7 linked regions of the Homo sapiens genome follow. Changing the gene in region 4 together with the main gene of any one other region gives a genetic interaction. Each region holds a gene or a part of one and is shown on either strand. Other genes may lie near its edges. The genes, in order: IARS1, WASHC4, NOL10, ATG7, VAPA, LETM1 and NRBF2.

Region 1 (4,687 bases), on a different chromosome or scaffold from region 4:
CTGGAATCTAAAACAGTTTGTATATTCTCTTGAAAAGAGTGTTCCCTGACCACTTTTCACCCTACACCTATTTTTGGATAGGAGCCCTCTGTGTACTTATTTCTACCAGATAACTTATCAGGTAGAATACTAAGAACTGGCTTAATTTCAGGTGTCCTTGACTGACTCATTCCTTGAAGGGTTCATTTTTGTGCAACCCCACACTTGGGACAATGACTGACATGTAGAAATCACAAAATGCTTACTTATGTATTCACTAAACAAATGCATATGTTAAGGGCATAATAATATATTAGTTTAATAAAGCCAATCTAAACCAAGTAACTGGTTTATTTTACCCTGAGACAAGCTGTCAACATTATCAGGAAAGGCACAGGCAAATACTTTCTCCTCTTATGCTCTCATCTCTTGGTAAAGAAATGTTCTAGGAAACAGAAAAATACCTGAGCATCTGAGTGTGCTTCAAATTGCGCAGTCCCACCTGTGGCCTGATCAAAGGTGTACATGAGGCGGATGTCTTCATCGTGCAATTCATGGCCTTCCACAACAATGGTCCCTATGGAGAAGCAGCTACACTGTTAATCAGCTTCCCCTCCTCTTCAAGCTGCCCCACTACCCGTGTATTATGCCCCTTCTTGATTAAAATTTCACAATAACAAAGCCACAGAGGCTTCAAGAGATCATTTCCCTCTGACTCATGTCATGGTTGTAGCCAAGACATGACAAACTTTCTTTAGATTACACTATGCTACCTTGAAGACAGTTAAGTCATCACCAGTATCTACTGTTTTATATAAACTCTCAGGTCCAAAGACATGACAAAGCTAAGGGAAGGCACCAAGAGGCAACAAATGCTCACCATAAACACAGAGCAGCAGGATGTCATGAAGAAAATACAGTCTTTAAAGAGAAAGTGAACTTAGGTCCACTATTTGCTGGTTGTATGACATGGTGTTCTGCTACCTGCTGAGCAAGGTGTGGTGAGGCTAAAATGAGACGGGCAGTGTGTAGTACTGAGCATCATGCCTGTTCAGGGGAGGCAGAAATGTGAACAGCTGCTGATGTTAACACCCCCGCTGATAGGGAGGCCCACTGTTGTCACTGATGATGACCTTCTTGGGCTCTGAGCACCCGGGTGTCATTTTTATGTTTACTTTGTCTCTGTGTTCTGAAGATGATCTTGTTTTCCATCAGTGCAGAACAGTACGCTCAGAAACTAGGCTTTCAATTTCAAATAAGGTTTAGCCCAGGAATTTTTTTTTTTTTTTTGAGACAGAGTCTTGCTTTGTCACCCAGGCTGCAGTGCAGTGGCAGGATCTCGGCTCACTGCAAGCTCTGCCTCCTGGGTTCACGCCATTCCCCGGCCTCAGTCTCCTGAGTAGCTGGAACTACAGGCGCCTGCCACCACACCTGGCTAATTTTGTGTGTGTGTGTGTGTTTTTAGCAGAGACGGGGTTTCACCGTGTTAGCCAGGACAGTCTCAATCTCCTGATTTCGTGATCTGCCCGCCTCGGCCTCCCAAAGTGCTGGGATTACAGGCATGAGTCACCACCCCCAGCCATCTCAGGAATTTTTGATGCTTTGGCTATCTGGCGAACAATTTAGATTTGTGGCTTGAAGGCTCGTAACACTTTGTTATTTTAATATTTTGAGTTGATTAGTAATTAGTAATAACTTGAGGTTTAGCTGCTGATGTCTTATGTTTTATTAATTCTATCTAAATATTTGGAGAATCTTAGGGACAGTTCCCCCATCTGATTTATGAATCCTCAAATCTCTCTTCTCAAGACATCTCCTAGCTTATGATTTTCAACTTCAGAGGAAGCCGTAACAATAAACAGCTTGTGCCCCAGGATAGTTACAGGATGTCAGACAGCCACACTCAGACCATGTATGATTCTAATCATGGCAGAGCTGCAAATTTCTGGGCACCCTGAAATGCTCTGTATAGGGGTAGCAAGATGGGGCTGATTTCCCTTTCCTAATCCCATCATTTGGTTAGGTACCCCCACATGTTTTTATGTTACCCTACACCTTCCCTTTATAACACTTATCAAAACCATAATTATTTTCCCAAATCTTCAATGTCAGCAAGCACCATGAAAGTAAGGACAAAATCACCCTAGGCTCCAGGGATCCTCCCACCTCAGCCTCCAGAGTAACTGGGATGGCAGGCACATACCACCACATCTGGCTAAGTGTGGTAGTATGTGCCTGTAGTGATCTCAAGTGATCTATCCAACTGGGCCTCCCAAAATGCTGGGATTACAGATGTGAGCCGCTGGGATTACAGATGTGAGCCTCTGTGCCCAGCTATTTTCTTTCTAAACTGTAAGAATTATTTATAATAAACATTTTTATCAACAGGAAAAAAAGTTTTACTTAAGAAAAGGATGGACCGGTGCAGTGGCACACACCTGTAATCCCAGCAATTTGGGGGACCGAAGGCGGGTGGATCACCTGAGGTCAGGAGTTAGAGACCAGCCTGGCCAACATGGTGAAACCCTGTTTCTACCAAAAATACAAAAATTAGCCAGGCATGGTACTACGTGCCTGTAATCCCAGCTACTTGGGAGGCTGAGGCAGGAGAATCACTTGAACCTGGGAGGCAGAGGTTGCAGTGAGCCAAGATCGCGCCACTGTGCTCCAGGATGGATGACAGAGCGAGATTCTGTCAAGAAAAGAGAAGAGAGAAGAGAGAAAAGAGAAGAGAGTAAGGAAAGGAAAGGAAAGGACAGGACACGACGGGACACGACAGGACAGGAAAGGAAAGGATGTGATATTAAAAGTCAAACAGTAGCCTAAAAAGTATCCCTCAGACTCAGGACATAAATGGTGCCCTTGTCTGTGTAGACACCTACCAGTCTTCTGGAACTGCTCCAGCTCCTCACTGCTCAACTGCTTGATGGACGTCATCACTGCCTTAAAGGCTCCCTTCAGACGCTTCCCCAGGACCATGTGATCTGGTTCTGCCCTTAGCCGAATGCCATACTTGTTTTTATCTGTAGACAGTGTAACTTTTCGAACATTGAGTTCCTACAGTTAATGCACAAGAGGAAACAAAAATGAGAAATGAAAACATATGTTCACACAAAAATGTAGGTCCACAGCAGCATTATTCCTAACTGCCAGAAAGCAAGAACACTTCAAGTGTCCATCAACTGTGAATGGATAAACAAAATGCAGCATACACATGCAATAGAGTATTTGGCAATATGAAGGACTGAAGCACTCATATGTGCTACAACATAAATTAATGTGAAACATTATGCTAGGTGAAACACGCCAGACATAAAGATTACAAATTGTATGATTCCACTTATATGAAATGTCCAGAGAAGGCAAATCCAGAGATAGCAAATAGGTTCGTGGATGCCAGGAAATGGTCAGATATTGAGGGGAAAATGGTTTGTGAATGTTAATGAATACTGGCTTTCTTTCTGGGACGAGGAAAATGTTCTAAAACTATGGTGATAGTTGTACCATTCTATAAATATGCTTAAAAACCAGTGATTTGTATGGTAAGAAGAAAATGCTTGTTATGAAGATCTATCAAGACAGTTGAGCATAACAGAAAAAGGACTCCAGACCCAGAAATATAAACCTCATCCCTCAGAGGTAACCTTTGTGCAAGCAATTGCAGAGTACCACAAGGTTAACTATTAACTAAGCAGAAGATCAGTTAAACAGAACACTTCATGCTTCAGTCATGCTACTGAGGATTACTGATGCGGCAGGGATGGTGATGGCACAGTAGCGGATGGGAAAATGAGAACAGCTTGAAGCAAATAATACGGAATGTTTAGTTTTGCCATTATATTTAGCTACATTAATTAATCTCATTTTAAGTGAAGTAGTTAATTTCAAAATTTTTCAGCTGGGTGTGGTGGCGCAAACTTGTAATCTTAGCACTTCGGGAGATCGAGGTGGGAGGATCACTTGAGCTCAGGAGTTAGAGACCAGCCCGGGCAACATGGCAAAACCCCATCTCTACAAAAGCCTGTACTACTATGCCTAATCTCCGCCACTTGGGAGGCTGAGGTGGGAGGATTGCCCGAGCCCAGGAGATGGAGGCTGTAGTGAGCCAAGATCACATCACTGCACTCCAGCCTGGGTGACAGAGCGAGACCCTGTCACAAAAAAAAAAAAAAAAAAAAAAAAAATTTCTATTTTATGCATAGCCACAGGTACTAATGTCAGAATTTAAAATCTAACTTTTGGTTTCTAATATTTCTCTGCAACTTTCAAGCAACTGAAAACCAAATATAGAAATTAACATTTTCTATAATAATGATTTTAAATATCACCTGTGAAAAGAATAAACAATGAAATTTTAAAAAATATTTGTTTTCTATCATCACAAAGAAGATGAGGTAAAACATATGCGTTTTTAAAACATCATGGAATAAAGATGTTTTAAAATATCATGGAATAAAAATGTTTAGGAAGACAACTGACACTATAAACTTTGACCCCAAAACTCCACTTCTGGAATCTATCCAATATCCATACACTGATATATGCATATATGTACACACAAAGCTTTTGTTTGTAATCAGAAACCTAAATGTCAAACAACGGGACAGTAATTAAATAAATTATGAAGCAGCCAGGAAGTGAGACTCCAGGGAGAAATGGGGTGGAGAGAGGCTCCCTATGCTATTGCTTCGACTTTTTACATGCGAGG
Region 2 (4,087 bases), on a different chromosome or scaffold from region 4:
TCCAAGAATTATGGTATCAGATCTGCATCGACTGAATAAATTTGATGTACATTCCTGAGTATATCTCCACTAATGGGAAATGGAGGTATCAGGTGAACTGAGTGGTAAAGAGGAGCCAAACTACTGAAAAGAAAATACTTACTTGCCCAACTTTTCTTATACATTATATATATGCTGACCTGTGTTATAAACTGAACTCTAACTTTGCCATCACCATCTCTTGAGTTCACTGCCTTTGCTTAGTCTCTACAGATTTCCACTTATTCTGGATTCCCTTTTTAAACTTCACATCTTTGACAGCCTATTAAAGTATTCCTAACATCTGAAAGCCTTTGTTAAAAAAAAAATGTGGTATTAAAACTTCCCTTAAAAAACGAATACCGTCTTCTGAAACATCTGCAATGTGAAGCTGGAAAGAAAATCCTGTTACAATTATTAAAATCAATTAAAGCCTACCTTTTACATTTAGCAGACTCAGCATAAAATAATAACATGAAGTATCCAATATTTTCTCATCTTTCCCACAATTTTACAAATTTACTGCCTCAGAAGAAAAAAGGAACAGCAACCAGACTTAACTTTACCAAGAATGATTTCTGCAGTGTAGTATTTAACAGGATTGTACCTCGTCTCCAGTGTAATATTTTGAAGGCTCTGTTGTCATTACTGTAGTCCCTGCTTATCTGAGAGGGATACACCAAAACGCCCAGTGCATGCCTGAAACTGCAGATAGTATCTAACCGTATATATACGGTTTTTTCCTATATATACATGCCTATGATAAAGTTTATAAGTTAGGCACAGTAAGAGATTAACAATAACTAATGATGAAACATAACTGTAACAAATACTGTCACCAATGCTGCGGAGAGAAGATTCATTCTTACCACAGATCTTAGCAACCCCACATATGATTTCTTTTCTTTCCTTATTGAGAACTTTCATGTTTTCACTTAAAGGATGCATTTTAAGGCTTCTCTTATAGCATATCTGAATTGCCAGCGTCACTACTCTTGCACTTTGGGGCCATTATTAAGTAAAATAAGGCTTACTTGAAGACAAACACTATTGATTTGACAACCTAGCTACCAAGTGATTCATGGGCAGGTAGCACATACAGCATGAAGATGCTGGGCAAAGGGGTGACTTACGTCCCAGGCGGGATGCAGCATGACAGCACAAGATTTCATCATGCTACCCAGAATAACACACAAGTTGAAACTTATTGTTTCTGGAATTTTCCATGTAATATTTTCAGACCACAGCTGACCACAGGTAACTGAAACTGGAAAGTAAAACACGGATAAGGGGAGACTACTGTATTGTTTTAGTTCAACTCAGGTTTGCAAATAGCACTATAGTTATTACTAACATTAAACAATGCATACTGATAATCCCTTTCCAGGATTAGGATTTAAAGTAACTTCATATTGGTTCTTTTTATTGGAAAAAAGCTCTGGAAAGATCAAGGATGTATAAAGGAAAGAAAACACCTTTCTTTCACCTGGAATACATTGACAGGAGCCAATTTTAAACTTCAAATTTTTACCTATGTGCATGCATTTTATAAAAAAATGATTCCACAGATTTCATTTCATTCAATTAAGGGGGACCCCAAAAAGGTTAATATTAAGAACTACTGGTTTACGACATTCAATTTTGAACATAAACATCCAGGGGAAGGAAATTTTCAAAATTATGTTTATTAATGTTTTAGTATACACATTATATTCTCTTAGAATTGGGGGAAAAGGAAAACCCCACTCAAGTGAGGTAACAAACTTGCCATCTTTTACAAAATTTCATTAGAACTGACAATGTTATGGTGAGTCCTTAATTCCTGAGAATTTGAATTATTAAGTTTTCTGTGAACTTAAAACAAACGCTCACATTAATTTTTAAATTACAGTATGTCTGAAAAAATAAAATTAATGTTAATGTTATCAAGAAAAATCATCATCCAAATGTACATATTAACCTATTAGATGTGAATATACTGAAGCCCTGTTGCTCTGCAGTTTGACACCATTTAAATTCGTTTCCAGGATCTTATTTCAAATATATGAACTTATAATTTATCCAGATAGCAGTGACATTATTTTGACCTAAAGGAAAAATAATTGTCTGTCATTTTCTTCTCAACTGTAGGTATCCAGGGAGTCAGCATGTGAACTCTATCTAGTATTGATAAAATAATTAATTTACATGTGTAGGGATAATGAACACAGAACATGTGATTCTCTTCTAGTAACAATTTCTATCCCTTAATAGGAGATGATTTCAGAGAAGTTAGAGAAGAAAAACAGAGAAAACAATACTGTTGCTATGAAATGACGAATTTGATATAATCAAATGCAAGATCATTAATATAAACACTTATAATAATGAAAATATAAATTATTAATTATGCAGCATGCTTTAGGGCCATTTCTACAGTTATTATGAATTACAAATATTAAATGCCTTTAATCTATCCACTGTTCATAATTCTGTAAGCCATGTTTACATAATAAACAAAAAACATTTCCTACATATTCTGTCTCTTCTGACTTTTAACAATTAAAGTATTTATCTTGGGCTGGCAAGTTACCCTGACCCTAACCAGTAAGTACAAACAGGGCATTGTACACCCATTCTAAAAGCTGGAATCAAAGAATAATGTTAGAAGTATTTGCAGGATTTATCCAAAGAAATGTTTAGCAGACAAATGCAATAGAAAAAAATCAAGCATTTCCCAAAATGGTGTTTGTATTAGAAAGTTTTAAACTTTTGTCTTCATTGTAAAGGTATCACTTTATTTTATTTTTAAAAGGCCATGATTAACCATTTAATAACTTACATACCTTTACAAAAATAAAACTAACAGCTTGCTGGGCACAAAATTTACTCAAAATCTTTCTGTATTTTTAAAATCAGTAAGTGATGTATCTTGCTAGCGCTTTATTCTCACAGTGGTATTTTTTTAAAAGCCTGAACAGTGTAATTATTTAATCTGATGTTTTAAATTATACTTGATATAAAAAAAAAGTCTACCCAAACCATCACCAAAATTTCAATTCAATCTAATGTAGAAGAAACCTGAGTTTGGATGTAGAAATAATTCATTCAATTTTTTTTCTGACATCATACATCATGCCTTCAACCAAAATAGAAGTGAAGCTTCAAACAGGACTCTATGGCTTTATCTGAATTTTCTGAGTATTAAGTAAATCTTAAATTTAAAGCAGCTGTTGGAGGTTAAATGTTCTCAAAGCAATGTAAACTAGTTATAAAATGTCTCATCAAAGACATCAGCAGCTCTTGTGAGTCACATGAAATTAACAATGAAAGAAGGATCATCAGTTATACTGTACACTGAGAGTACATAAAACACTTGTGCCTCACCTCTAGTATCAAAGCCATCTTCATATATTCCTTTTATAAGAATATTGATATGTATTCTTTATGAACTTCAGGCTCATTCCTTTTGTTAAGCATGTATTTACTGGCTGTATATAGTATATGCATTGAATTTCCCATGACTTGAAATAACTATAGATCAAAGATCTATGCAAATACAAATTACAAACATGTAGATTACAAGAAATCCGAGGTGATAGTTTATGAATCTGGATTTGCCCTTTTATAACTTCACTTCAAATAGAAACATCTTGTACCCTCAAGTCCAGGCAAAAATCCAATTTTAAAATCTCATTCTTAACCTTTGAAAGTAGAGCCTTTGGAAACAGAATGAACTTCACTTTAAAGCACTGCCTTTAAGAACTGTAACATCTATTTTCCAGAGATGTGACCCAGGAAACAATTCATCAATAGTTTATCCATTCCACTGGCAAAAGTTTTAACAATTCTGATGATTTCATCATATGTGCAGTGAATACCATCCGTATCATTTCACAACAGGATCAGCAGACACAGTGCTGTCAGACAGGTCTCCATTGCTTGTTTTAGTTTCTTCTGAAAGCATGAGTGAAAATAATAATGGATATTTATGTTCATTTTTAAACAATAAATTAAGAAGTAAAAGAAATTTGAGAAGAGCTGTATTGCCAAACTTCAAATTACAGTTGCATCCATCAAATGTTTCTCT
Region 3 (4,687 bases), on a different chromosome or scaffold from region 4:
ATCTCTCAATTTTCCTGAAAAAGACTTAAAATTTCTGGCAAATTTTCCAAGTAACCTTTTCAATAACCAGGTAAAGTGAGATGGGGTAAACATAACCGAGGTTCTAATTTTTTAAAATAACTTTGTGAAGAAGCAGAAAAGTTGTCATCTCCTAGCAACCACTGTCCAAAAGGCTTCAAACCACTGATCTGTAGGGCACAGAGTAAGTATTTGTAGGTGAGGGAACCCCATGGGGAAAAAACAAGGACAAGGAAAGTGTGTGGCTTCTGCAGCTTAAAAGTGTTCCACTGATACTCATAAGGCTCTCTCTACCCTGTATTTTACTGCATGTAAACTATACCTCAAAAAGTTGTGACAAATAAGTAAATCCCCTAGAGACCAATGTACTTCAATAGCGACGCTCCCCTCAGGCCTCCTGGGTGCTTCCCTCACATCACCTCCTGCACGGCCTTACCTCCCCTGCTTCCCTCGTCCCCTCCACCCTCTGCACCTCCATCATCCAAAGACAGAAATGTCATCTTTAGGGCAATGTGCCAGAGAGGAAAAGCAAGGGCTTGGTTACATGTCAACTGTGCGCTCAGGCAGTGCTACTCACTTCATCAGTTTCTGCTTTGTGGCAGAATCTTTGAAGCTTCTAAATTCTTCTCCTGCTTTGATCTCATAAAACTGGGGCTTTAGGACTGTCTGCTGGTCCTCCTTGAGTCGTTCCTGCCGCTTCACTTTTTCCTCCTGCTGGAGGAGTCTGCGTTGCTTCCTGACCTCTTCAACCCAGGCTTTTTCATCATCTGAACTCTCCGAACTTTCTGCATCACTTGGTTTTCCTTCCGGCTCTTCCTCCTCTTCCTGAGAATAAAAATAGTAAGCAGCAACTCCTTTCCCCCAGTCAAACACAGACCCCTTGGTTTCTCTGAAGCAGCACTGGCCCATTAATGAGTGCCTAACAGCTGCTCTACTGCATGCATCAGGAGAAATGCCTTTAAATAAATAAGATAATACTCCTAAGCCCAATGTCAAACACTTAATATGGAATTAATTACATCTCAAGTATAATCAAAGACTCTTCTAACTTACAAAGAAAACATTACATTAAAGAAACAGTAGCAAATTCTAACTGATAAGGAGTACATTACTTTTTCACGAAGTTCTTGTTGCTCTAAGAGTCTTAGTTTCTTCTTCCTTTTTTCACTAATTTTTGAAACAAGTGGATTCAGAAGCCTAAATTCTTCACTCTCTTCATCTACTTGGAAGTCAGGGTTCTCAAACATAACTTTAAATCGATCATCGGTGAGAATATTAGGAAGACTCTACAAGGAGGAAAAAGTACGTAAAAATTTAAGTTAATATCTGACTAAAATTTGACCAGAAACATGGTTTTAAAACACTGATTCTATTATAAGTTAATAAGCGGCATGAGGCATACATTATTAACTCATTATGAAATTTCTTCCAGGACTTTCAACGTGCCCCTAGGTTTTAGCTGCCACCACCAAAACAACCTCTATTAATCTACTTTGCAGATGCTCTACACCACTTGGCCATTACACACAATGAGCCAAGAATGACCCTTTTGGCTAACTTTATGCTTAACAGATTAGAAAGAATTTCTTCAATTAACATTTTAATGCAAAAAAACACCTTTCAAGAAGATACTAGGTTTTTAAAAAGTGGCTTTTATTATTTTTTAGAGATACGGTCTCACTCCAGGCTGGAGTGCAGTGGCACAATCACAGCTCACTGCAGCCCCAACCTCCTGGGCTCAAGTGATCCTCCCACCTCAGTCAGGCTCCCAAGTAGCTGGGACCACAGGTGCACCACCGCACCCGGCTAATTTTTTATTTTTTGTAGAGATGGGTCTCACTATGTTGCCCAGGATGGTCTTGAATTCTTGGGCTCAAGCAATTTCTCGTGCCTTGGCCTCCCATAGTACTGGGATTACAGGCATGAGCCACTGAAAACAGGGCTTTTAAATAAAGCTTAGTTACTACACTGACTTAAAATAAGCAATTCTTTCAACTTCAGATTCCAAAACTGGGAGAGGAGGTATACAAAGTCAGTAACTCACATGGTGGGATGCAGGAAGCTGGTGATGTCAGTTTACCGATTCCAGCTGAGTTACTGGGAAACAGAAGGGACGTTTCCATCCCCTACAGGGTTGTTTCATCAATATTCCCCCTCAGGTCAACTAATTGTTGTCAAAGGATATTGTGTATCCTTCAGATACAAAAACTTTGGCTACTGAGACCCATTTAGATAGCTCAGGACTGATACTAAATTCCTTTTTATTTGTACCATTTTCAATGGAAAGTTTTCTAAACTGTACTGTAAACTTACCTGTTCACTTAAGTAGATGACAGAGAATCTTACACATTTAGGACTGTCTTATTGTTCCTTCTCTGCTACAGGCTTGGAAGCCAGATGAAACGGCTTACTCAGAATTGTTTGTCAATCAGAGTAAACAGCCCTGAACACTGCTGGAAAAAGCTGACCTGTTTGTGATGGACTCTGACTCTGCTGAACAGACTACTTTACTATTTCTCCACTGTTGAGAGTAAACAAGATTGCAGGCAGTTGAGTTCTGAATATTATTTGTGTGACAGACCTATACAAAAGTTTAGTAAATCATAAGATATTAAGGAACTTGGCCTGTTTATTATTTGTATGTACCTAAAAACAGATAAACCCTTACCTAAAATTCTAAGATATTAAATGCAGCAAGTTTCCCTGATTAAACATCATTTCCAAGAAAGACTTACAACGAAGGGAAAAAGAAAGGTAAGATCGAGTTCCTGATCCTAAACTAGTAAGGAAGAAAAAACACTGCAAACACGTGCTACTAGGCCTCTTCTGAGGGCTGCTCGGTAGTGCTGAAAGTGCCACAGGAGAGGACAGAAAAAGGAATCCCAACAAAAGACACCCCAGGAGGGGCCCTGGGGGGTGCAGCATCAGGGAGGGGGCTTGAAAGATGAGTAGGTTTCAACAAGTAGAAATCTGAAGAAACAGCATTTCCAGCCGATGGGAGTGGTGAATAGTCTGGCGACATAAGAATGATGCAATTTCAAAACAATTTTTTGATTGGGTCATACTGTAAAGGATTTTAAATACCATGACTGTTATTTTGAAGATATAAGGGGAAACCACTAGCGAAGAGGAGGAGGGGGAGGAAGAAGAGGAAGAGAAAAAGGAAGAGAAACGAAGGAGGGAGACAGGGAAGGAGGGAGGAAGGAGAAGATGGATGATCAACAGAAGTGTGCTTCAAGACTCCCAGATGACAGAACTGGCCAGGTGGTGGTTCATGCCTGCAATCTCAGCACTTTGGGAGGCTGAGGTGGGAGGACTGCTTGAGGCCAGAAGTTCAAGACCAGCCTGGGCAACATGGTGAGACGCTGTCTATACAAAATATAAAAAATTAGTCAGGCGTGGTGGTGCATGCCTGTAGTCCCAGCTACTTGGAAGGCTGAGGTAGGAGGATCGCTTGAGCCTGGGAAGTCAGGGCTGCAGTGAGTTGAGATCACACCATGTACTCCAGCCTGCGTAACAGAGAGACCTTGTCACAAACAAACAAACAAACAAACAAACAAACCAACCCAAAATTGTGCTTCAAAAGTCTGCAGCAGCCTGATGTCTGACGGACTGCTGAGTAAGAAGTTAGCATCATGAGAAGACTAAGAAGCCATTTTAAGAAACTGGCAAGAGAGACAGGGCCTGAATTAGGGCAATGGGAACAGACAGTTTTTAAGAAAGAATAATTACGAGATACAGTTCTAAATTAGAATTGACAGATCCAGCTATGGAGATGGGAGGGTTAAGAATTAAAAACAGGGTTAGAAACTTCTCTCAAACATGTAGCTTAAGCAACCAGAAAGCTGGCGACACTGAGTTAGAATCCATCACTGGAGAGCATTAGGAAAAAACGCAGGGGTGGAGTAAAGGGGAAGAAATCACGCTCCATTTAGGGCTGCCTATGCCTGTGGCACAGGGAGAAGAGCACCAGGATTCAGACGGACACCACTAGGTGTCTGGGAACGATGCGCCATGTCTCAGGAGAAGGGAGGGGGCTATGATGTAAATTTTGGAGTTATCTGTAGATATCGGATAGATGATAGTGTGAAAGATAATTTCAAATGAATAACTATGTGCCTATTACACATTTTCAGGTTAAAAAAACCCAAGGGCAAATATTTACTTTTCATCTTACTATATTTATTAAAGTAATAATCATATTTAATAAATAGAGAAAATGTTACAAAGACTACATATGTTGCTGGTATTAAGATTTTTTTCTTAATTTAAAACAAATCAATTGCATTGCCTAAAGACAAGTATGCTTTGGATGAACAACTATAAAATAAAACCTCTTCTGACCCAGCTTGTAAAAATATTTCCCTCAGGGTTTTTTCCTAGTCTGTTTGTTTTCACAGCTGTCTTAAGGAAAAAAGTAGGATAAGGTATAGCTATTAATGTTCTATAGGAGCTTACAAGTGTCTGGCTAGTGATCCGTCCTATAAATACCCGTCTACACATGCTCAACTTTACCATTAAAATATAGAAAACATTAAAGTACTATTCATACCACAGTCCTACCTGGAAGAATGGTATCTGTCTACCTGAGTGGGACGCCTATTATTATTTTGTTCCAACATAGTAACATATATGAAGAATGATTGCCATTTGAAACAAATTAGTTTTT
Region 4 (4,687 bases):
GGTAGGATGTAGATGGAAGGACCTGGCCTTGGTGAGGGAAAAGTAGGGAAAAGGTAAGGGTCGATTATAGAGATACCAGCTATGCATGCATGCGCGTGTGTGCGTACACACACACACAGATACCAGTTATACACAGGCACGTGCACACACACAGCAACACACAGATGTGTGTATATATATCTGTGTATATAAAACTAATTTATATCCTTTATTATTATATTGACTATATAACATTCTGTCAAATGTATGTTTCATAGATTCCTGTTATATATTTAGGTGGTTTCTAATATTCACTGTTATAAAAAATGCTAGTCTGGGCACAGTGGCTCATGCTTGTAATACCAGCACTTTGGGAGGCTGAGGCAGGTGGATCACTTGAGGCCAAGAGTTTGAGACCAGCCTGGGCAACACCTTGTCACTTCAAAAAATATAAAAATTAGCTGGGTGTGGTGGCGCCTGCCTGTGGTTCCAGCTACTGGGGAGCTGAGGTGGGAGGATCATCTGAGCCTGGGAGATTGAGGCTGCAGCATGCCATGATTGCACCACTGCACTCCAGCCTGGACAACAGAGTGAGACCCTGTCTCAAAAAAAAAAAAATACTGTGGTATATTGAAAAATATATAATATTAGCCATATTGATCTTTTCTCCTGCTCATTTTACTTCTTTAGAATAAGTTCTTTGGAGCGGGCATATAAACACAGTAATGTTGCTGTGTATTAAGTGTGCTGTTTCACCACAGCATCATCAGCTTTGGACATTAATCCTCTTTCCCACTTCTTTTTTTGGCAAGTTTTCCTTCCCCGACCTCCCACCGTTCCTCCTAGATTCCTAGATGCAGGGGAGGCCTCTGATTTATTGCCCAAGGCAAAGGAGGGTATGATAGCAATCAAACAAGGCCAGTGGGTGGCTATCTACAAGGAACACATTTTCTAACAAGTTATAATGCTTTCTATGTAATAGTGGAGGAGAGAGAAAAATGTTTAAATTTTTTGTCTGATTACTTGGCTCAGTTTGGCATTAATAATCTGTCTATACGTTTGGGTAATTCTGTAGTTTTTTTTTTTTTTTTGAGACGGAGTCTCGCTCTGTCACCCAGGCTGGAGTGCAATGGTGCGATGTCGGCTCACTGCAAGCTCTGCCTCCCAGGTTCATGCCATTCTCCTGCCTCAGCCTCCTGAGTAGCCGGGACTACAGGCACCCACCACCACACCCGGCTAATTTTTTGTATTTTTAGTAGAGAGGGGGTTTCACCGTGTTAGCCAGGATGGTCTTGATCTCCTGACCTCGTGATCCGCCCGCCTCGGCCTCCCAAAGTGCTGGGATTACAGGCATGAGCCACCGCATGCAGCCTGTAGGCTCTTTACTGGGATAAATTGTAAGCATTGCTAGTTAAAGATTTCTAGTTACTTGAACGTCAGTACGCTTTCTGTACCAAGAATTCTCATAGTAGAACATGCTGACAGTTTGCATTTAATGAGAAAAATAACATTAGCTCTTACTTAAAGTTTTAAGGTTTGCCTAGAGTCAGTATGTGTGTTGGTCTTGCTGCCTTGTTTACTGAGCATTCTTAGCCTGACTTAAAAAAAATTGTAAGTATCTACTTTTTAAAATCTTCAGACACCAAGGACTTTATGTTTAATTTAATGGAGGTCATTTCTATCCTGAAAAGAATCCTAAGAAATGCAAGCTTTTTGACTTTTGAAAATGACCTGATAAAGTTTCTTAGAATTCGTGAGGTCCGGCCGGGTGCAGTGGTTCATGCCTGTAATTCTAGCGATTTGGGAGGCCGAGGTAGGCGGATTGCCTGAGCTCAGGAGTTTGAGACCAGCTTGGGCAACATAGTTAAACCCCGTATCTACTAAAATTAAAAAAAAAAATTAGCTGTGCATGGCAGCCTGTAGTCCCAACTACTCGGGAGGCTGAGGCAGAAGAATTGCTTGAACCTGGGAGGTGGAGGTTGCAGTGAGCTGAGATCGTCGTGCCGTTGCACTCCAGCCTGTGTGACAGAGCAAGACTGTCTCCAAAAAAAAAAAAAAAAAGATTTTGTGAGTTTCTTCATCTTGAATTGTTTAACCTTTTACTAAATATCGGTTATGACAAATCATTTAAGTACAAAGAAGAGAAAATAATCTCTGGAGGTGTTTTTGCTTTCCTTCTGCTGTTTTTTAGGACTCATAGGACTAGACAGTTCATTAATTTCAGCTTTGCAGTTCATTTTGCCATTGTGAAGAGGGAATTTTTTCTTAGTTGATCAATGAATAGCAGAATTAGAGACCGCAGAGATTACAATTATTAGACTTTCTCATCTGTACACATGATTACATATACATTTACATTTTAAAACTCATCTAGTATGATTTCATTTATATGAAAAGTCCAGACTAGGAAAATCCACAGAGACAGAAAATAGATTAGTGGTTGCCAGGGGATGAGAAGAGGGGGAATGGGGAGTCTCTGCTAATATGTATGAGATTTCTTTTTGGAGTGATGAAAATATTCTGGAATTAATAGTGATGATGGTACAACCATATCACTATACTAAAAAGAAACCACTAAATTGTATACTTTTTAACATGGTGAATTTTATGGAACGTAAATTATATCTCAATAAAAAGTCATCTAACAACCATCCAATTTTAATTCTTAGCAAGATTCAAGAAGAAATATTAATTAGCTACATAAACTGCATTCATATTCAGTGGTCACAGGCTTGTAGGCAAGCTGCCAAATACCCACATATGTCTGGAATGCTACCATGAATTTAATTAAGGCCCCAAAAGCTGTAAGAATTCTGAAGCAAGAGCCATTAGCGTGAGTGGGAACAGTGTCAAAGACAGCCTCACAAATCCTTTCCCCTGGATCTCCTACCCTGGTGGGGGATCGGTCAGATATACCCGTGAAGATGTAACCTCTTCTATTCACCCATCCAGCTTACTACTTAGAGCCTCTCCATGGCTCTAATCATGCACTCGCTTTATCTCTGCTCTGTCCACAAAGTGAGCTGCCTGGTGTCTGGGACTGGGGTTTATTCATCTTATTGTCAGTGTCTTATGTTTTGCCTTGTACATAGCAAGGGCTTGATAGTTGTTGACTTAAATCCACTAAGCCATTTACAAAAGCAATATTGTATTATTTCAGGCATGCATACATATGTGAATAGCACAGCTTCCTTAATAACATGTAATTTATTTGATTGTGAAGAGAATGGTAACTGTTTGGAAGTTGTGCTTCTGTAGATAGTACATTAAGTATCTATGGTCAGTGGAAAAAAGCTTAAGTTTTGGAAGCAGAGTTCTGATCTCTTCTCTGCCCCTTGCCATCTTTTTTGTTGTTGTTTAGGTTTTTTACCCCTTTGTAAGATTCAGTTTTCTGTTTATAAAATGGGATAATAGTAAATACCTCCCAGGGGGGTTTTGTAGGTTAAAGGATGATGATGATAATATCAATTACATATTGCACATTTTCTGTTAGCAAGTGGTCAATAAAGTATATTATGTTTGTCATCATATTATTAGTGGTGGTATATGAGACTATTTTGGGAATACAAAAGTCCTTTATTTGATCATGAGTTCTGTTGGGGATGAGGATATTTGATAAGCTGGACAGACTTTGTTTGCATAGCTTTGCTATCTTAATTGGCCTTGAGAAGCTACATTAATAGATGCATTTCACCTTAAGTTAATGGTGCTATTCTAATAACTTATTTATACTTTTTTTTCTAGGATCTAAAGAAGTACCACTTCTACTATTGGTTTTGCTATCCTGCCCTCTGTCTTCCAGAGAGTTTACCTCTCATTCAGGGGCCAGTGGGTTTGGATCAAAGGTTTTCACTAAAACAGGTATCAACAAATAACCAAAATGCACATAAAATTGGGTTGAATGTGCAAGAGTAGTTATGTAGTTCTTTCCAAAGACAAACAGGCACTTCTCTGGATGAAGACGTGGTAACTGAAATCCTCCAAAGGTGGTACTAGGAGCAGACTTATTTAGAAAATGTTTGTAAAGTCATTTTTTTGTATATATATTTATATATGTTTTGAGACTGGGTCTCACCCCCATTACGCAGGCTGGAGTGCAGTGGCACGATCACTGCTCACTGTAGCTTCAACTTCTCAGGCTCAGGTGATCCTCTCATCTCAGCCTCCTGAGCACCTGGGACTACAGGCATCCCATCACACCTGGCTAATGTTTGTCTTTTAATAGATATGGGGTTTTGCCATGTTGGCCAGGCTGGTCTTCAACACCTGGGCTCAAGCAATCTGTCCACCTCAGCCTCCCAAAGTGCTGGGATTACAGGCATGAGCCACCCTGCCTGGTCTGTAAAGTCATTTTGAAGATGTAGTGCACAGTAATTTTCCAGGTTTTCAGTGGTATTTGGTGAAATGCTAAGCCAGTAAGGGGGAATTATAGGAATATTTTGAAACACTGAAAGAATTTACCAAAATGTGGTCTTCATTTTCAATGTGGGGAAACATAAGGCAGTATAGTCTGGGAAAGAGTCTTTGAAACAAAACAGAAGGCATTCTCCTACCCTTGTACCAAGTTGCAGAACTTTTCTACCTGGAGCAGTACATGCAGAGTTAGTCGGTGACATTTGGGATAGATAATAAGTTCATTAGAGATGGTTCCCAGAAGAGCAGTTAAAATAATCAGGCTGGTATAACAGAGACCCTAAACTAGAGAATT
Region 5 (4,687 bases), on a different chromosome or scaffold from region 4:
GATATTCTCTAAAGTACTTTGAAGTTACTTAACAGCTTTTAGGTTACTAGTAATACCTGCTCTGAAAAGGTTCCAGGCTCAAACTACTCCTGCTCGAGTTCCACCGCAGGGGATTCTGGGAACTCCATTCAGTATTTGTTCAAGCGCTAAAACAGACCCAAAACTACTTTCTTGGATAACTATGGGCTAGACCAATAGGTAGGCATAACTGCTCTTTTCACCCAAGATGTGTAAATGGCGAGGTTCAACTGTCATTGCCGTATCATTCCCATCAACTTCTGGTTTGGTTTCTAAACCAGTGAGAGCTACTCTTAATCAGCAGTATCAAATACCTGGGGTTCCAATCCTTTTCACACATCTCAAAGTGTGTGCTATCCAGAGCACAGTAGAAGCCCAGATAGAAGATAGATTTACGCTGACCGAATTACTGTAAAAAATGACATAAAACTCTCAGTGAGAAAATATCCAAATTTTTTTTTAAAAAGTCAATCCAGACAACATGCTGTTTTGTTTTCTTGGTTTCAACAGTAAGAGCTGGGCAAGCTATTAGCTTCCCTCCGCCTAAGCAAAAAAGAAAACCTCCAAATGGGAAGCATACACAGGCCATCTAACACTCACTTTCCACAGAGAATACATGTGTTCACAATTTTTTGCTTTTGGCAAATACCTCAAAAATCACTTAAAAGAGGCATTTTAAAAATTCAAAATATAATTTGGTCAACACCTAATTACCAGAGACCTTTTCATTTCTGCTTATCCTGAAAGAGGAACACAATAACTGAGCCCACATATTTAATCTGCATGTTTACTTTTCAATAGAGCAAATGGCCACTAGATTAAGGCAGTAGTCATGTCAGATTGTAACCAAATTGTGCCACACCATTCTATTTATCCATATTATTGTATGTATTAAGTCACATACACACACAGAAAAATTTATCTTTCAAGTCTCTCTCACCATAGGAAAAGATTCAAATTTGCAATCCAGACAGGGAAATGGACAAGGTAAGTGACTACAACCCACTCGGTACATTCACAGACTATTTTTTGTTTGTTTTTGAATAAACAAATACATCCCTCAGTCCCCCAAATTGTATTAGACTTACACTAATGAGTAAGCAACATAATAATTATTTACTAAAGAATACAATCAGATGGATTTGACTAAAAACAAAAGTGAGCAAAATACCTAGGAATAACTAAACCTGGAATAAACTGTCCATGTAAGTGAATTTATCCCCAAACTGCCGGTACATAGTGGCCAAAAAGCAATTTATATGTATTTTTAAATTATGTATACACATCTCATTCTAAAAAAGAACCTGCAGTGGTTTACGTCACAAAAAATCTGGTAGACTTAAATGATTCTTCTCCAGGATGCAGTCTTGACCTAAAAGTGAGTCTTTCTTTCTTCTTGGATAAACAAAATGTTACTTTAAAAAAAAAAAAAAAAAAGGCATACCAAGTTTTTTAAAACTTAACCACTGAGTCTTATGAAGTGTAATAGCCATATCACACATACCTCAAAGGTCAAAAATAAAAGCAAAATTAATCAAAGGAACTGAGAGCTCAACAGCTCCCAATTTTTTTTACATTCTCCTACTTACCAATTTATCATTTTCATTGGGCATTTCAAATACGCATCTCAATTTGGAATCCATTAATTCATCAGGTTTTGCCTCTTTCCACTAAAAATAAACAAAACCAAACATGAGACATAGGAGGTATGATCATGGTAAGTAAGTTTCACCTCACGGGACAGCTAAAAGATGAGTGAAGCTGCCTGGCTTGGCTGAAACACACTGGTGCACTCTTTATTGATCACCCTGCCATTGTTATCGGCTAATGTCACAGAACCTTTATATAATCCTAGTTACTATCACCATCCATTAAAATCACGATGATATTACTAGCAACCATAGGACTTTCTTCTTAGCATTTCTTTCTTTTTTTCCAGTTGGTCTCATTCTGTTTCCCAGGCTGGAGTGCAGTCGCCCCTCCTGGGCTCAAGCAATCAATCCTCCCATGCCTCCTGGGTAGCTGGGACTACAGGCGTCCAACACTATACCCAGCTCATTTTTGTTGTGGTGGTTTTTTTTGTTTTTTGTTTGTTTGTTTGTTTGTTTTTGTAGAGACAGGGTCTTGTCATGTCGCCTGAGCTGGTCTCGAACTCCTGGGCTTGAGATACTCCCATCTTGGCCTCCCAAAGGGCTGGGATTACAGGTGTGAGCCACTGCACCAGGCCAGTAGCAGCATTTCTAAATTGTTTCTAAAAAAAAATACTATTTAAAAATTCTTTCATTCTTTAAGTTAGGATTATCTATAATGAAGAAATTGGCAGTTTTTTAAAAACCTAAATTTAACTTTTAGTTTTTAGAAATTAAGTTTTTCTACTGACTGCTAAACAACACCCACAGTTTAAACTCCACTTCCCAAAACAAATTCTTCTTCTATACTTACCACAGCTTCCATATCTGAAGTGTTTGGTGGAGCAAAAATTGTCTGTACCATAAACTTGTGTTTACTCTTTTCATTCGGATCATAGTCAAAGGGCTGTAGCATTACTAAATAAGAAAAAAAGGATATATTATATTGTCTCCTGCATGTCTGAAAGACATACATTGAAACAGTTACAGATTAAATTATACTAAGTCTGGGATTTGCCTTAAACCGTATCTGGCAATAGTATCATTCCTACTACTTCACAAATATGCAAATTTAAAAAAAACCAAGAAGGGTTCAAGAAACCAAACACTGGAATGTTTAAGAATCAACTTAATGGATCCCAAGTATTTTTAAATTGTCTGTCTTTCTAATTTACTAAGTTTTGCACAACCAACAAAATAAACAATTACAATTAAAAATTAAATATGAATCTATGATTTTGCCCTTTCTAAACTCAGCTTGTGAAAATTTTCAAAACTTTGCCAACGTTAACTATAATGCCTATAAGCTCAGATTAAATATAAGTTATTAAAACTATGAATTTAGGCTTCATTTTAGTGTTTTCTGATTTAAAATTATACAACTGAGATATTTAAAGGAGAAATACTCAGTAACTTAAAACCTCACTACCATCTGTTTTTTGTTTTTTAAAACAGGGTCTCACTCTGTGGCTGAGGCTGCGCTGCAGTGCAGTGGCGCAATCTCAGCTCACTGTAGCCTCAACCTCCCTAGGCTCAGGCAATCCTCCCACTTCAGGCTCCTAAATAGCTAAGACTATAGCCACATGCCACCATGCCCAGCTAATTTTTGTATTTTTTTGTAGAGAAAGGGTTTTCGTCATTTTGCCCAGGCTGGTATAGAATTCCTGGGCTCAAGAGATCCGCCCTCCTCAGCCTCCCGAAGTGCTAGGATTACAGGCGTAAGCCACAGCACCCAGCCCATATATTGTTTTAATATAATTAATTTTTCAAAATTGTATTTTAAATAAACATCTATTTCAGAGTTTATGAATTTATTTAAATCTTCTAAGAAAACAAAAGTACACAAGGAAACCATATAGCCTCTTGAGTTCTAAAATTTATTCTACAGTCTCAATAACATTCAAAATTTTTAAGTTTTTTTTTTTTTTTTTTTGAGACGGAGTCTTGCTCTGTCGCCCAGGCTGGAGTGCAGCGGTACAATCTCGGCTCACTGCAAGCTCTGCCTCCCAGGTTCACGCCATTCTCCTGCCTCAGCCTCCCGAGTAGCTGGGACTACAGGCGCCTGCCACCATGCCCGGCTAATTTTTTTGTATTTTTAGTAGAGACGGGGTTTCACCGTGTTATCCAGGATGGTCTCGATCTCCTGACCTCAAGATCCGCCCGTCTCAGCCTCCCAAAGTGCTGGGATTACAGGCGTGAGCAATTTTTAAGCATTTATAATTTCTCGTCTTTTAAGTTTTCTAAGGTTCCATGTGGTTGTAAGTCATGCTAAATTTATGTAACATGAGTCCAATATAACAGACTATACAAAGAATCAATCAACAGTTACACAAAATATGTACATGGCATTATAGAAATTATTTCCCTAACTTTAGATTATTTCTAAGATATATCTCTACACTTTCAAAAAGATAAACACGGGTAAATAAATGTAAGAAATAATTATGTAATAAAGTCTTATTCATAAGGTGTGTCTGAGAAGTCCATTAACTGCTATCAAGGTTAAGACAACTTTTTCAAGGGGCCAAATACACAGCAGCAGGAAATGTACTGGATAAAATGCCTCAGAATACAGCTTAAGCTAAATAAAATTCCATTAGCAACCTTCACTGAGTTAATGATTATAAGCTAATCACTATGAACCAAAAATTTGTGAATAAAACGAAAACTTACAACATGGTTAAGTTTATAGGAGTTATACTCTAATTTAGGTTGCAGACCACATAACAAGACAAAGACGATCTTGAAAACATATATAAAAATGTGCACAAATTGAAGCAAATTCAAAAAACAAAGCGTCAAAAGGACACAGGGAAAAAGAGAAATGAGCATGTAGTACAGAGAATTAACCAGAGAAGGTTGTTGGAAGAAGCATAGCTTTGAGTGACTGTAAATGGAAATACACTACACTAAAAACTGGAAAAGCCAAATTCTAATTAAGTAGAACAATCCAAGGGCATGTTTGCGTAATCAGTAACCAGTTTGTCTGAAGGTTTTAATAAGTCAGGTTTCTGTGGGAGAAAGTGTTTTGATACGTTGTT
Region 6 (4,687 bases), on a different chromosome or scaffold from region 4:
TGGTTAGGAAAAGAGTGAGTCCGGCCGGGCTCCGCACTGTGCCTGGGTGCACAGCAGCTGACGCTGCCGTGAACTTAGCACCCTGGCCCACAGTGTGGCAGGTAGAGATGCCAGTCGGCAGGTTTCAGGGCCCTTTGCCAGCTTGCCCAGACAGTGAAGGGGTGTGGAAGCCAATGTGGCCCCTCAAGGTAGAGCCTCCTCCACAGGCCCAACCTGCTGTCACCTCCTGTGGGGTGATCTGGGCTTGGAGCATCTTCAGACTCCCCATGCGAGCCTGTGAGGTGCAGCCTCCAGGCGCCTGTGCTGCCTACCTGGGGCGCCTCCTGGTACCTTCCATCTTGAACTCGCGGGCTGAAGTGCAGTGGCGCCATCTCGGCTCAGTGCAGTCTCAGCCTCCCAGGTTCAAGCAACTCTTCTGCCTCAGCCTCCCAATATCTGGGAGTACAGGCGTGCACCACCAGACCCAGCAAATTTTTGTATTTTTAGTAGACAGGGGGTTTCACCATGTTAGCCAGGCTGGTCTCAAACCCCTGACCTCAAGTGATCTTCCCGCCTCAGCCTCCCAAAGTGCTAGGATTACAGGTGTGAGCCACCACACCCAGCCATAAAAAAAAAATTTGGCCAGGCGCAGTGGCTCACGCCTGTAATCCCAGCATTTTGGGAGGCCGAGGTGGGCGGATCACGGGGTCAGGAGATCGAGACCATCCTGGCTAACATGGTGAAACCCCATTTCTACTAAAAATACAAAAAATTAGCCAGACATGGTGGCATGCACCTGTAGTCCCAGCTACTCAGGAGGCTGAAACAGGAGAATGGTGTGAACCTGGGAGGCAGAGCTTGCAGTGGGTGACAGAGTGAGACTCTGTCTCAAAAAAAAAAAAAAAAAATTTCACTTTTTAGCAAATCAAATAGAACTATTCTGTAAAAAGAATCATGATCACATGGGATTTGTCCAAAAAATGCAAATTGGCTTGAATTTTTTTTCTTTTGAGGTGGGATCTCACTCTGTTGCCCAGTCTGCAGTGCAGACATGACCTTGGCTCACTGAAGACTTGACCTCCCAGGCTCAAGTGATTCTCCTGCCTCAGCCTCCCGAGTAGCTGGGATTATAGGTGCCCACCACCACACCCAGCTAATTGTTGTATTTTTAGTAGAGATGGGGTTTCACCATGTTGGCCAGGCTGGTCTCGAACTCCTGACCTCAAGTGATCCTCCCACCTCGACCTCCCAAAGTGCTGGGTTTACAGGCTTGAGCCACTGTGCCTGGCCAAAATTTTTAAAATGTAATTTCCATATTAACAGACTAAATTAGAAAAGCTGGGAATGTTTATCTTGGTAGCTGCAGAAAGAGCCTGTGGCAGAACCCAGTATCTGTTCCTGATATGCAGATGTCCTGCACATGCAGGCAGCTTTCTCAGCCCAATCAAAAGCATCTGCAGAAACACCTCCAGCTGCCGTCACCCTCAGTGGTGAGACGCTGATGAGGTTGTCTGTCCTCACTCTGAGCTCAGCATCAGCTTGGGGGTTTCAGTCAGGGCAGTTGAATACAGAAAACAAAACCATATAGATCAGAAAGGAAAAAGGAAAACTCTTTATTCACAAATGGTGTGAACAATCAATTGTGCTTCACTATGGTAATGAGTAGTCAGAGAAGGTTTGAACAGTATGGCACCCCCCAAAATGAACTACTTAGGGATAAATTTGGAAAAAGATATGCAAGTGCTGTCCACGGAGTACTGTAAAATGTTGCTGAGGGAAAGAAAAACCAAACAGAGAGGCTGGGCGCGGGGCCCACACCTGTGATATCAGCACTGTGGGAAGCCGAGGTGGGAGGATCGTCTGAGTCCAGGAGTTTGAGACCAGCCTGGGCAACATAGTGAGACGCCGTCTTTACAAAAAATAAAAAGTTGGACAGATATGTCAGTGTGTGCCTGTAGTCCCAGCTCCTGGGGAGGCTGAGGCAGGAGATTGCTTGAGCTTGGGAGATCAAGCCTGCAGCAAGCCATGATTGCACCACTGCCCTCCAGCCTGGGCAACAGAGTGAGACCCTGTCTCAAAAAACAAGACAAGAAACACACGACCACAGGGGCAAATCTCAAAATAAGTGAGTGAGAGAAGTCAGACAAAAAGAGTGCTTGCTGGATGATCCGTCTATCTAAGATGCTAGAAAGTGCACCCGAGTCTGCAGTGGCAGGACCTGAGGTTGCCTGGGGGTCGGTGGCGGGACCCAGTGGGGGCACAAAGATGCATTTGGAGGTGACTCTTTGACTGTAGTGAAGTTTCACAGTACACGTGTCAATTCATAGATGACGCGCTTTAAACAAATGGGGTTTGGCATATGAGGGCAGACAGTGACTGCGTGCAGCAGCCAGCGCAGCAGTGAACCTGAACCCCGCGGGTCTCTTGTTACCAATGACTGTCCAGTGAGACTCTTGCCCTGGGCTGCCCGTATAATATGAACAGAGCAGCTGGTCACTTGGGAACAGGCCAGTTCTTTCCCTTGGCTCAGGCTTTGTTGTTTGCCCATTTTTATCCCAGGAGGAAGAGATCACGAAGGAGGAAATCGACATCCTCAGCGATGCCTGCTCTAAGCTGCAGGAGCAGAAGAAGTCACTCACCAAGGAGAAGGAGGAGCTGGAGCTGCTGAAGGAGGATGTGCAGGACTACAGCGAGGTGGGTGGGATTTGCTCCCTGGACTCTGAGACTGCAAGAAGAGTAAAATCGCTGTACTGGCCCCAAAAGTATACATAATACTTCCGTCAGATACTTGATAAGCTGGCCAAAGAGTATTTGGAGAGGAAAGCACGTTATAAATAAACCTTATTCAGTAACCTTTCCACAGCCATTCCGGCTGGACCAATCCTCTGTAATGTGGCTGTGTGCCGTTCTGGCCACAGATGTGTGTGCACCTTTTTTTTTTTTTTTTTGTAAGAAGGTCTTGCTCTGTTGCCCAGGCCAGAGTGCAGTGGCACAATTTCAGCTCATTGCAACCTCCACCTCCTGGGTTCAAGCAATTCTTGTGCCTCAGCCTCCCGAGTGGATGAGACTGTAAACATGTGCCACCATGCCCAGCTCAATTTTTTGTATTTTTAGTAGAGACGGGGTTTCACCATGTTGACCAGGCTCATCTCGAACTCCTGGCCCCAGGTGACCGACCTGCCTCGCCCTCTCAAAGTGCTGGGATTACAGGCGTGGCCACCGTGCCTGGCCACATCTTTTAGTTTCTAAACATGGGAAGGTGTCTCATGAAGAGTTTGGTCACTTGACGAGATCTTATTCATGATTACGTGAAAGTGGCTTTTTTCTTTTCTTCCATGGTGGTTTGTTTCCCTTTTTTTGTAAATATTACTTCCTAATAACGATTTTTTTTCTTTCTTTCTTTCTTTTTTTCTTTTTTTGAGACGAAGTCTAGCTCTGTCGCCCAGGCTGGAGTGCAGTGGCGTGATCTCGACTCACTGCAACTTCCGCCTCCTGGGTTCAAATGATTCTTCTGCCTCAGCCTCCTGAGTAGCTGGGACTACAGGCATGTGCCACCATGCCTGGCTAATTTTTTGTATTTTTAGTAGAGACAGGGTTTCACCATGTTGACCAGGCTGGTCTCGAACTCCTGACCTCATGATCCACCCGCCTCAGCCTCCCAAAGTGCTGGGATTACAAACATGAGCCACTGTGCCCGGCCCCTAATACGATTTTTTAAAAACTGTTTTCATAGCTCTGTTGGGAATGATAACTGATTTTTCAATTGGCAAAAATAATTGGCCATTTCTAGATTTATGACAGCCCTCATGCCATGTGGGTTCTCCACTGGATGTGAGGTGCTTATCACCAGCTCAGCCTGTTCCTTCCCTCCCCTCCCCTCGCCTTCCCCATTCTTCCTCATGGTGTTTACTCGTGGGAAAAAAACAACTTGGAATTTAAAAAGACACTTAAGGCTGGGCACTGGTGGCTCAGGCCTGTAATCCCAGCACTTTGGGAGGTCAAGGCAGGAGGATCACTTGAGCTCAGGAGTTTGAGACCGGCCTGGGCAACATGGTGAAACACCATTTCTGCAAAAAATACAAAAATTAGCCAGGCATGATGTTGTGTGCCTGTACTCCCAGCTACTCCAGAGACTGAGGCAGGAGGATTGCTTGGGAGTGGGAGGCTGGGAGTTGGAGGCTGCAGTGAGCTGAGATCATGCCACTTTACTCCAGTCTGGGTGACAGAGCAAGACCCTATCTCAAAAAACAAAGACACTTAATTTCCTTGATTAATTAGTTCACTTAATTTTTCTTTAACAAATGTGAAGGAAATTGAGATTCAGAATAGATTCTATGTCTTTTGCTTGCAAGGCAGTGTACAAAAATAAGAAATTTGTATGATAGAAATACAATTTTATAACTCTCTGGTTTGAATTAATGGGTTTAATTACCTTTACAAGTTAATTTATTACCTTTTTTTGTTGTTGTTTGAGATAGGGTCTCGCTCTGTCACTCAGGCTGAAGTGCAGTGATGTGATCTTGGCTCACTGCAGCCTCCACCTCCTGGGCTCAAGCCATCCTCCTGTCTCAGACTCCTGGGTAGCTGGCACTACAGGTGTGCACCACCACGCCTGGCTAATTTTTTGTTTGAATTTTGGTAGAGATAAAGTCTTGCTATGTTGCCTGGTCTGGTTTCGAACTCCTGTCCTCAAGTGATCCTCCTGCCT
Region 7 (3,785 bases), on a different chromosome or scaffold from region 4:
AAGAGATGTCTAAGAAAATGTGTCTACAGTGTATCAGAGCGGTAGCAGAGCAGTTAGAATGTCTCCACAGATTTTTTTTTTTTTTTTTGAAACGGAGTCTTGCTCTGTTACCCAGGCTGGAGTGCAGTGGCGTGATCTCGGCTCAGTGCAACCTCCACCTCATGGGTTCAAGCGATTCTCCTGCCTCAGCTTCCCTAGTAGCTGGGATTACAGGTGCCTGCCACCACGCCCAGCTAATTTTTGTATTTTTTTTTTTTTTTAGTAGAGACGGGGTTTCACCATGCTGGCCAGGCTGGTCTCGAACTCCCGACCTCAGGCGATCCACCAGCCTCAGCCTCCCAAAGTGCTAGGATTACAGGTGTGAGCCACCACACCCGGCCGTCTTCACAGATTTAAACATGAACAAAAGGAAAAGAAATAGTATGCAGCTGTACAGACATACTACAGGAAAAAAAGACAAGGGTTGTGGGAAGGATGTAATTATGGTAAGCATAGCTGGAGCAAAGACTGTATAACCAACTCTGTTTTTTCTTTCCTTTTTTTTTTTTAAATTCTTTTTAAATTGATACAGGGTCCCGCTATGTTACCCAGTCTAGTCTTGAACTCCTGGGCTCAGGCAGTCCTCCTGTTTGGCCTCCCAAAGTGCTAGCCACTGCGCCTGGCTCCAACTCTTCTTTTTCTTGGAAAGGGAGCATCTAATTCAGCAGTCCCAACCTTTTTGCTGCCAGGGACTGGTTTTGTGGAAGTCAATTTTCCATAGACCTGGGGTCAGGAAAATGGTTTTTGGATGATTCAAGCACATTACATTTATTGTACACTTTATATTTTACAATGTAATAATAGAAATAAATAATTATACAACTCAACATAATGTAGAATCAGTGGGAGCCCTGAGCTTGTTTTCCTGCAGCTAGACAGTCTCATCTAGGGGTGATGGGAGACAGCGACAGATCATCAGGTATTAGATTATCATAAGGAGAGTGCAACCTAGATCCCTTGCTTGTGCAGTTTGCAGTAGGGTTTGTGCTATGAGAAGCTAATGCCGCTGCTGATCTGATGGGAGGCAGAACTCAGGCGGTAATGCAAGCAATGGGGAGTGGCTGTAAATACAGATGAAACTTCACTGGCTTGCCTGCTGCTCACTTCCTGCTGTCTGTGTGGCCCAGTTCCTAACAAGACATAGACCAGTACCGGCCTGGGGGTTTGGGACCCCTGATATAATTGTATCTTAAAGACTGTGGTAGAACCTAGCAGGCAAGAACTCTTAAGTTATGACATCAAAGCATTAAATTATTTGGATTAAGACTGGACAGAAAGCAATGCCTCGTAGTATCTGCAAAAGGGCAAAAGAGGAACTTAATGTAGGTATGAGAGATGCCAAAAATGTTTATAACAAGCAAGATAAAAATGGAGATTCATTATGGACAATTCATTGATAATAGAGAACTTATTTATACCTAACCTTGTTCCCGAAAGGTTATAAAATGTCTTACAGATGAATGTACAATAAAATATCGAATGTAATTAAAGATACATAGATAAGGACATCCATAGAGAAAATGAGAAAGGACTAGTAGTGTAGTTCACAAAATGTACCATTAGTTCTTGCATATTTTTTTAAGAACTTGACTTAAGTTTTCTAGCAGTCATCCTAAAGAGGAAAGATAATAATTTTTACATTGGCTATTAAAATTCAAACAAATAGTCACCGAGGATCTAAGATCAGAGAGAAGTTTATTGAAGGTCTTCATAAATGACATTATACTGTCCTCAGTAACTTCCTCGCAGTAAATATGTCAACAAGTTCTTAGGGCTTTTAACCATAAGGCTGATGGTTTAACTCAGAGACAATTCATTAAAAGTGATTCTATAGGAGTCCAAAATGATAGATTCCAGGTATTCAGACGGATAAAAAGTCATTGATAATCTCATGATATTTTTGTGAGTATGATGAGTAATAGGGTTTGGATAGGTTCTTGTTTGATTTTTATCTTTCCTAAACCTATTTTTCTGATTAGACCATCTTCAGTTTCTGAATTATAAAATCTGTAGGAGTTTTAAATAACAAAACCTTCAAGATAGGGTAGGGAATATTTTCATTTTATTGCCACTGACATCCTTTTGGGGGAAGTTAAGAATTCTTTTAAAAAATCCCCAATTGTATCAGAGTTATCAGACCAGTTCTCTTTGTCATATGAAGATTATTAAAACTCTTCCTTTTACCTGTTAATTACAAAATGAAGACACATATTAACATGCCTATTTTTTCTCTTAACAGCATATCTTTCTGAAGCCATGAAGCTGACACAGTCAGAGCAGGTGAGACATATTCCCAATATTTGCGACAAGGGTTAGAAAGGTTTTCTTGTGGAGGCTTGAATTGTGTGTAAAGCAAAGCATTGTGTCCCTCTCAAAATGCTATAGTCAAAAATATATAAAATGGGCAAGGGAAGAGCACTTCACAACGGAAATTAAAACTAAATGAACTGCAGTCGATGCCCCAGACATGGAATGCAGAAACTTCTTTTTTTCTAGTGGTTACTCACAGATCTCAGATTGCCAGCCAGATGTACCTTTTAGAGAGCCCTCTTCGGACCATTCCTAATCATTAGCTCTTATTTGATCATTAGCTTACAGTCAGTAAACAGGCCTGGCCAAGAGGAAACTAGTTGGACCACCCTTTGCTTGTCAAAGATAATTTAAATCTGACCAGTCTCCCACTTGTCTTTGCTTGAATTCTTAAGCAGTTCAGGCACTTTTAAATTTGTTTCACCAATTGCTTTAAATTGTCTTCTGTGTTTGGGGAGGCCCTGCCAAGTGTTTCAAGATACATTTATTCATAAGACTGGGCATGGTGGCCCATGCCTGTAATCCCAGCACTTTGGGAGGCCAAGGCAGGGGGATCACTTGAGCCCAGGAGTTCGAGACCAGCCTTGGCAACACAGTGAGACCCCATCTCTACAAAAACTTAAAAAATTAGCTGGGCGTGGTGGCACATGCCTGTAGTTCTAGCTACTTGGGAGGTTGAGGTGAGAGGATCACTGAACACCTGAGTCCAAGGCTGCAGTGAGCTATGACTGCGCCATTGCACTTCAGCCTCAGCAACAGGGACCCTGTCTCTAAAATAAATATATATAAAATATCTTTTTAAAAACTTTTTGTTATAAAAGTATTAGTTAAAGAGATCATTTCTGTGAGGTATATCAGTGGCAGGGAAAGCCACTAGTTTCTCAAACTGAACCAAGGGAACTTTAAAGTTGTGTTCTATCCCTTTCACTGCCTTTGAAAGTATAGAATCTGCTCATGATACAGGCATGCATTGAGTTATCCAAACACGCGGTTGATAGGAAGACTTTCTTTTTAGCTGTTGGTAGAATTAATATGTCTACAGAGGAAAGATTTCTAATTTTGAGTACAAATGACATTACACATGGGGTCAGGCACATTGAGGAAAACATCCAATTTAGTGTATTGATTGGGAATAGGACTTCTGACTTTCTGAATGGTATTTTTGCAAACATAGTAAATTGTAAATTGTAAGTGTTGGGTTATTCACAAAGGATTTTGAATAGTGTATGTTGGACATTACTAAGATACTTAAAATATTCTTCCAATTTTATCTTTCCTTCTATGTAATAGGCTCATCTTTCACTGGAATTGCAAAGGGATAGCCATATGAAACAGCTCCTCCTCATCCAAGAGAGATGGAAAAGGGCCCAGCGTGAAGAAAGATTGAAAGCCCAGCAGAACACAGACAAGGATGCAGCTGCCCATCTTCAGACATC

Evidence for each region.
Region 1: of ATG7 (region 4) and IARS1, changing one suppresses a phenotype caused by changing the other (phenotypic suppression), as found in Homo sapiens cells (one large-scale study listed by BioGRID).
Region 2: of ATG7 (region 4) and WASHC4, changing one enhances a phenotype caused by changing the other (phenotypic enhancement), as found in Homo sapiens cells (one large-scale study listed by BioGRID).
Region 3: of ATG7 (region 4) and NOL10, changing one suppresses a phenotype caused by changing the other (phenotypic suppression), as found in Homo sapiens cells (one large-scale study listed by BioGRID).
Region 5: of ATG7 (region 4) and VAPA, changing one enhances a phenotype caused by changing the other (phenotypic enhancement), as found in Homo sapiens cells (one large-scale study listed by BioGRID).
Region 6: of ATG7 (region 4) and LETM1, changing one enhances a phenotype caused by changing the other (phenotypic enhancement), as found in Homo sapiens cells (one large-scale study listed by BioGRID).
Region 7: of ATG7 (region 4) and NRBF2, changing one enhances a phenotype caused by changing the other (phenotypic enhancement), as found in Homo sapiens cells (one large-scale study listed by BioGRID).

Annotation. Positions count from the first base shown.
Region 1 is NC_000009.12:92,244,516-92,249,202, forward strand, and holds part of IARS1 (isoleucine--tRNA ligase, cytoplasmic), read right to left. Parts: intron 3,037-4,687; coding exon 2,862-3,036; intron 557-2,861; coding exon 444-556; intron 1-443. UniProt on the Homo sapiens protein: Catalyzes the specific attachment of an amino acid to its cognate tRNA in a 2 step reaction: the amino acid (AA) is first activated by ATP to form AA-AMP and then transferred to the acceptor end of the tRNA.
Region 2 is NC_000012.12:105,166,731-105,170,817, reverse strand, and holds the end of WASHC4 (WASH complex subunit 4), read right to left. Parts: intron 3,955-4,087; coding exon 3,887-3,954; 3' UTR 1,688-3,886; downstream 1-1,687. UniProt on the Homo sapiens protein: Acts as a component of the WASH core complex that functions as a nucleation-promoting factor (NPF) at the surface of endosomes, where it recruits and activates the Arp2/3 complex to induce actin polymerization, playing a key role in the fission of tubules that serve as transport intermediates during endosome sorting.
Region 3 is NC_000002.12:10,588,448-10,593,134, forward strand, and holds part of NOL10 (nucleolar protein 10), read right to left. Parts: intron 1,305-4,687; coding exon 1,131-1,304; intron 844-1,130; coding exon 596-843; intron 1-595.
Region 4 is NC_000003.12:11,309,581-11,314,267, forward strand, and holds part of ATG7 (ubiquitin-like modifier-activating enzyme ATG7), read left to right. Parts: intron 1-3,723; coding exon 3,724-3,840; intron 3,841-4,687. UniProt on the Homo sapiens protein: E1-like activating enzyme involved in the 2 ubiquitin-like systems required for cytoplasm to vacuole transport (Cvt) and autophagy.
Region 5 is NC_000018.10:9,933,987-9,938,673, reverse strand, and holds part of VAPA (vesicle-associated membrane protein-associated protein A), read right to left. Parts: intron 2,565-4,687; coding exon 2,461-2,564; intron 1,689-2,460; coding exon 1,608-1,688; intron 1-1,607. UniProt on the Homo sapiens protein: Endoplasmic reticulum (ER)-anchored protein that mediates the formation of contact sites between the ER and endosomes via interaction with FFAT motif-containing proteins such as STARD3 or WDR44.
Region 6 is NC_000004.12:1,817,324-1,822,010, reverse strand, and holds part of LETM1 (mitochondrial proton/calcium exchanger protein precursor), read left to right. Parts: intron 1-2,538; coding exon 2,539-2,673; intron 2,674-4,687. UniProt on the Homo sapiens protein: Plays an important role in maintenance of mitochondrial morphology and in mediating either calcium or potassium/proton antiport. Mediates proton-dependent calcium efflux from mitochondrion.
Region 7 is NC_000010.11:63,149,872-63,153,656, forward strand, and holds part of NRBF2 (nuclear receptor-binding factor 2), read left to right. Parts: intron 1-356; exon of another isoform or gene 357-485; intron 486-2,278; coding exon 2,279-2,319; intron 2,320-3,639; coding exon 3,640-3,785. UniProt on the Homo sapiens protein: May modulate transcriptional activation by target nuclear receptors. Can act as transcriptional activator (in vitro). Involved in starvation-induced autophagy probably by its association with PI3K complex I (PI3KC3-C1).